Regions from separate parts of the Homo sapiens genome. Here region 1 is linked to region 2. The links come from fine-mapping of genetic effects on gene expression. Tissue or cell type: cerebral cortex. Region 2 holds a variant in brackets; the other region holds the start of a gene. All regions are shown on one strand. Distances are from middle to middle. Region 1 holds the start of LINC02714 (long intergenic non-protein coding RNA 2714). Region 2 overlaps LINC02714 (long intergenic non-protein coding RNA 2714).

What was found. PIP is the estimated chance that this variant, and not a neighbour inherited with it, causes the effect.
Region 1: it holds the start of LINC02714, and the variant in region 2 is fine-mapped to the expression of LINC02714 in cerebral cortex (GTEx, PIP above 0.99). The same link has a PIP of 0.9 or more in anterior cingulate cortex and prefrontal cortex.

The regions. Positions count from the first base shown.
Region 1 is chr11:134,734,567-134,737,468 of GRCh38, forward strand. LINC02714 (long intergenic non-protein coding RNA 2714) reads left to right here and starts at 1,379. Exons shown (of 2, transcript NR_147836.1): 1 at 1,379-1,976.
Region 2 is chr11:134,739,766-134,742,667 of GRCh38, forward strand. All of the region lies in intron 1 of LINC02714 (long intergenic non-protein coding RNA 2714), which reads left to right. Among named protein-coding and RNA genes, the nearest start is that of LINC02714, 5.3 kb to the left of the region's middle. The variant T/A (reference allele first, on the strand shown) is at 1,758.

The DNA.
Region 1 (2,902 bases), 5.2 kb before region 2:
GACGCCCGCTCCCTTTCCAATGTTCTGTGCCTTTCCTCCTTCCTCTGCTCCCTCAGATGGAACGGAGCTGGCTGCCTCTGTTCCAAGAAGCCTGCGGCTGAGTGCGGGCTTGACATGAGATATTTATCATCTCAGGATGTCTTCGCTCAGATCGCTGGCTCTCCACCCCCAGACTTCTTTATCTTATTTTGCTAAACAAGATGAGTTTCTGTCATTGCTGGAAGTAATTGCCTTGTTTTTTAATATATATCAAGGCCCAGGTTAACAACTGGACAATGCAATGCATTTGTTATTCCCTCTCTCTCCTGTTTATTCTAGTGTGAAATTGTTTTCCAGGTAGTGATTAATTCTGCCAAAGCTTCCTGCCCTTGCTGGGTAATTTGCTGTATTTGGGAAGAAGATGCTAACTGCGCGGCTCTGCCATCAGAGGTGTCGTTACTGTTTTGTCAAACACTAGCTCCTCCATTGTCTTCTGCCAATCAGCCAAGCCTGTGGTCCTTTATTCATTTCCTGTTTCTGAGTTTTCTGTGGGGAGGACTGAAGCTGAGTCTTCGGGGGAGACTGTGTCAGGAGGCTGGGGTGGGCTGGAGAGGGCCCCCCAGCGGTGGCTCCAAAGCATCTCCGCAGCGATGGAGAACTGGGGTTCGTGGGCAGAGTGGTGAGCGACGGAGAACTGGGGTTCGTGGGCAGAGTGGTGAGCGACGGAGAACTGGGGTTCGTGGGCAGAGTGGTGAGCGACGCAGAGCTGGGGTTCATGGGCAGAGTGGTGAGCGACGGAGAACTGGGGTTCGTGGGCAGAGTGGTGAGCGACGGAGAGCTGGGGTTCATGGGCAGAGTGGTGAGCGACGGAGAACTGGGGTTCGTGGGCAGAGTGGTGAGCGACGGAGAGCTGGGGTTCGTGGGCAGAGTGGTGAGCGACGCAGAGCTGGGGTTCGTGGGCAGAGTGGTGAGCGACGGAGAACTGGGGTTCGTGAGCAGAGTGGTGAGCGACGGAGAGCTGGGGTTCATGGGCAGAGTGGTGAGCGACGGAGAACTGGGGTTCGTGGGCAGAGTGGTGAGCGACGGAGAACTGGGGTTCGTGGGCAGAGTGGTGAGCGACGGAGAACTGGGGTTCGTGGGCAGAGTGGTGAGTGACGGAGAACTGGGGTTCGTGAGCAGAGTGGTGAGCGACGCAGAGCTGGGGTTCATGGGCAGAGTGGTGAGCGACGGAGAACTGGGGTTCGTGGGCAGAGTGGTGAGCGACGCAGAGCTGGGGTTCGTGGGCAGAGTGGTGAGCGACGGAGAACTGGGGTTCGTGGGCAGAGTGGTGAGCGACGCAGAGCTGGGGTTCATGGGCAGAGTGGTGAGCGACGGAGAACTGGGGTTCGTGGGCAGAGTGGTGAGCGACGGAGAACTGGGGTTCGTGGGCAGAGTGGTTGGCTGCCCCACTGTCAGCCTGTTCTGAAAGTAGGAATGACCCTCAGCTGAGCTGAGATGTTGCTGGTGGAGACTCTAAGACTGTGGATTCTGACTCCCTGGGCTCAGGAAGGACGGTGCTGGGAACAAGGTGCAGACAAGGCACGACGAAGCTGGAGTGCCTCATACCACCCCCATGAAAGCGACGAAGGACTCCCAGAACCATTCCTGGGGGCCCGTGGGAACGAGGACTTTGGGGGCACAAGGACGAGCTGAAGAAGTCTTCCTGATTGTGGTTGTCAGAGGGAGGACATGGCATCGTGGTGGGCCAGAGTATCGGCCTCAACACCACCCACTTTTCAGGCTGCAGTCTCCACCGTGGCCGCTGTGTGCATTGGAGGGCACTTGGCAGCATCCCCAGCCTCCCCACTAGAAAACCAGATGCCAGGAGCATATGCGCCCCTCCTCAAGGTGCAACCACCAGAAACGACGCCAGACATTGCCAAATGTCCCTTGAGGGTGGGGACAAATGCCCCTCATCCCCCTTGAGGACTGCAGCTGGAACTCAATGAAGAGCAGCGGTAAGTGTCTCTTGAAGGGTCTGTCCACGGCCATCCGGGTGGCTTCATGGTACACGGGAGCCCATGTGGGATCCTGAAGTCAGAGTCCAGGACTGGGCCTTGGCTCAGTTATCAGCTGCAAGGTCTTGGAGAAAATCATTAACGGAGCTGCACAGTTTTCTGGGGAGTGGAAAGGCTGTGGAAACGGCAGTGAGCCATGGAATCACAGGATAAACAAGAAAAAGGGCACTTCCCCCTCTCCCTCCCTCCCCTGTGTGGACTCCAGCAGAAGGCTCCTGGGAATGTGTCCTCTGTCCTCAGTGCTCAGTTACATGAGCGGCACCTCCACTCTCCCCAGATGGTGTCCTGTTCTGTGCTGAGCTCTGCACTGAGAGTTCTGCCCTGAGGTCATCCCTTCACATCCCAGGCTGGTGCTGGCATGGGCCTGTCCCTGGGCTCTGCCTGGCTCCTGTACCTGCCCCTCCACGAGAGGCCACTCCATCTCCTCCCCAGGCCCCTCCACCTGGCACAGACACCCTCTGCCCCTGTGAGACTTTGCCCCTCTCTGCCTGCGTCCCTGTCACCACTCCTCCATCAGCACAACCACAGCACCTGTGGGATCTCCTGGGAGGGACAGGAGGCACAGGCAGTCATCACCTGTGGGATCTCCTGGGAGGGACAGGAGGCACAGGCGGTCATCACCTGTGGGATCTCCTGGGAGGGACAGGAGGCACAGGCGGTCATCACCTGTGGGATCTCCTGGGAGGGACAGGAGGCACAGGCGGTCATCACCTGTGGGATCTCCTGGGAGGGACAGGAGGCACAGGCGGTCATCACCTGTGGGATCTCCTGGGAGGGACAGGAGGCACAGGCGGTCATCACCTGTGGGATCTCCTGGGAGGGACAGGAGGCACAGGCGGTCATCACCTGTGGGATCTCCTGGGAGG
Region 2 (2,902 bases):
GTGTGTGCTGTGTGTGGTGTGTATTTGTTGTGTTTGGTGTTTATGGTGTGGATGTGTGGTTTGTGTGGTGTGTAGTGTTTGGTGCGAGAGTGGTGTGTGTGGGTTATGTTTGGTGTGTAGTGTGCATGTGGTGTGCGAGGTATGTGGTGCGTGTGGTGTGTAGTGTGTGTAGTTTGTGTGGTGTGTATTTGTTGTGTTTGATGTGTGTGGTGTGGATGTGTGGTTGTGTGGTGTGTGGTGTATTTGGTGTGTGTGTGGTGTCAATGGTGTTTATAGTATGTGTTTGGTGTGTGCGGTGTGTGTATGTGGTGTTTGTGGGTTGTGTGTGGTATGTAGTGTGTGTGGGTGTGGTGTGTGGTGTGTGGTATGTGTGATGCATGGTGCGTGTGGGTTGTGTGTGGTGTGTAGTGTGTAGCGTGTGTGATGTGGGGGGGTGTAGTGTGTGTGGTGTGTGGTATGTGTGATGCATGGTGTGTGTAGTGTGTATGGTGTATGTGGGGTGTAGTGTGTGTGGAATGTGTGACGCATGATGTGGGTGGGTTGTGTGTAGTGTGTGTGGTGTGTGTGGAGTGTAGTGTGTGTGGTGTGTGTGATGCATGGTGTGTGTGGGTTGTGTGTGGTGTGTAGTGTGTAGCGTGTGTGATGTGGGGGGTGTAGTGTGTGTGGTGTGTGTAGTGTGTGGTGTGTGTAGTGTGTAGTGTGTATGGTGTATGTGGGGTGTAGTGTGTGTGGTGTGTGTGATGCATGATGTGGGTGGGTTGTGTGTAGTGTGTAGTGTGTGTGGGTGTGGTGTGTGGTGTGTGGTATGTGTGATGCATGGTGCATGTGGGTTGTGTGTGGTGTGTGGTGTGTAGCGTGTATGATGTGGGGGGGTGTAGTGTGTGTGGTGTGTGGTATGTGTGATGCATGGTGTGTGTAGTGTGTAGTGTGTATGGTGTATGTGGGGTGTAGTGTGTGTGGTATGTGTGATGCATGATGTGGGTGGGTTGTGTGTAGTGTGTAGTGTGTGGTGTGTGTGTGGTGTGTGTGATGCATGGTGTGTGTGGGTTGTGTGTGGTGTGTAGTGTGTGTACAGTGTGTGGTATGGAGGTGCTGCCGTGTGGTGCATGTGGTGTGTCTGCTGCATGTGTGTCTGGTGTGTGTGTCTGTGTTGTGCTGTGTGTGGTGCATGTGTGGACGGCTTTTGAGCGTGGTTGTCTGTGTGAGCATGTTTGAAGACACGTATGAGGGTCATGGAAGGCACCTTTGCACCGTGGCCTTGACAGGGACTAGGACGAGGAGGACTCAGAACAATGTCAGTGGTACCTTCAGAAAATCCTTTTACCACTGACTCTTTATGGCATCAATAAAACGGTGATAAAAGTCACACGTGCCTCAAGGGTGGTGCTGGAGATTAAAGGATGTAGGATGCATAAACCCTGCCATCCTATGATGGGGAAATTGTCTTCTCTGTTGGGCCTTTTCTCCCCTGTGTTTGGAGCATTTTAGTTTCCCCCATAACTCCTTGCTTGCCTGCAGATCATCATGCTTCAGCTCCTTTCTAACATAAATGCTCTTATGAATTGTGCTGCTATAAACACGTGAGTGCAAGCGTCTTTTTTGAATATTGAGTTATTTTCCTCTGGGTAGGTACCCCGTAGTGGGATTGCTGGATCTAAGGGTAGTTCCACTTTCAATTCTTTAAGGAATCTCCACACTGTTTTCCATAGTGGCTGTTTTAGTTTACATTCCCACCAGCAGTGGAGAAGTGTTCCCTG[T/A]TCAATGCATCCACACCAGCATCTACCGTTTTTTAATGTTTTGATTATGGGCTTTCTTGCAGGAGCCGGGTGGCATCACGTTGTGGTTTTGATTTGCATTTCCCTGGGGGGAGGAGAGGAGGGGGCGAGGCATAAAAGACTACAAATATGGTGCGGCATATACTGCTTGGGTGATGAGTGCACGAAAATCTCACAAATCACCAGTAAAGAACTTACTCATGTAACCAAATACCACCTGTGCCCCTAATAACTTATGGAAAAATAAAAAAATAAATAAAATAGATGCTCTTAGAAGCACCCAGAGGAATCCTTACCTCCTGTTTGACAACCCACCCTCTCTGGCCACAGAGGAGGGACAGGTCAGGCCGGAGTAGTGTGTGCTGTACTCAACGCTGCCTGCAACCCTGAGGACTGATGTAAGTCTTCCAAATTCAACACGCAAGCTCTGCCTCCAGTTCAGATCAGCTTTTAAAAGGGGCGGACAATGTCTTATCTAGAGGGAAATTCCACAGATGCTTGTTCTATTTCCAGGTCTTGCCATACCAGGGTGGGATGAGAATATTTGTTTATTTTACTTCTGAAGAGATCATTTTTATTTAGGATATGTGATAAAAAGGCTGCTTGAAAATGCCACATCCCAGAGGCAAGAAATACCATGTGGGCCTTGGAATCAGAAAGTGCTGGATTTGACATTCCACCATCAACTAGTGGTTTGTTTGTTTTTAAAATTTGGTAAAATACACATAACAGAATATTTACCATCCTAGCCATTTTTAGGTACATAGTTCAGTAGCGTTAAGTACATTCACGTTGTTGTGTAGCCAGCAGTGAGGTTTTTAACCTCTGAGATGTTAACTCTCTGAGCTCATCACCACCATCGTCATCCTCTCCGGCAATGCTAAATATGGAGGCTCCTAGTGCCAGGAGTGAAGCTTGCTGAGATCTGGTGTCAGAAAGAAACCACTAACATCCTTGAAGCTCTAAACGCGTGCCTCCTAGGCTCACAGCCTTACCACATGCCAGTCTCATCTCAGAGGCACTGGGGTCTGTGGCTTCCAAAGGTTTATTACATATGACTTTTTAAAAACACTCAAGCATCTGTGCACAAATATGTTAAATTATTTTCGCATGACAGGTGCTGGGGA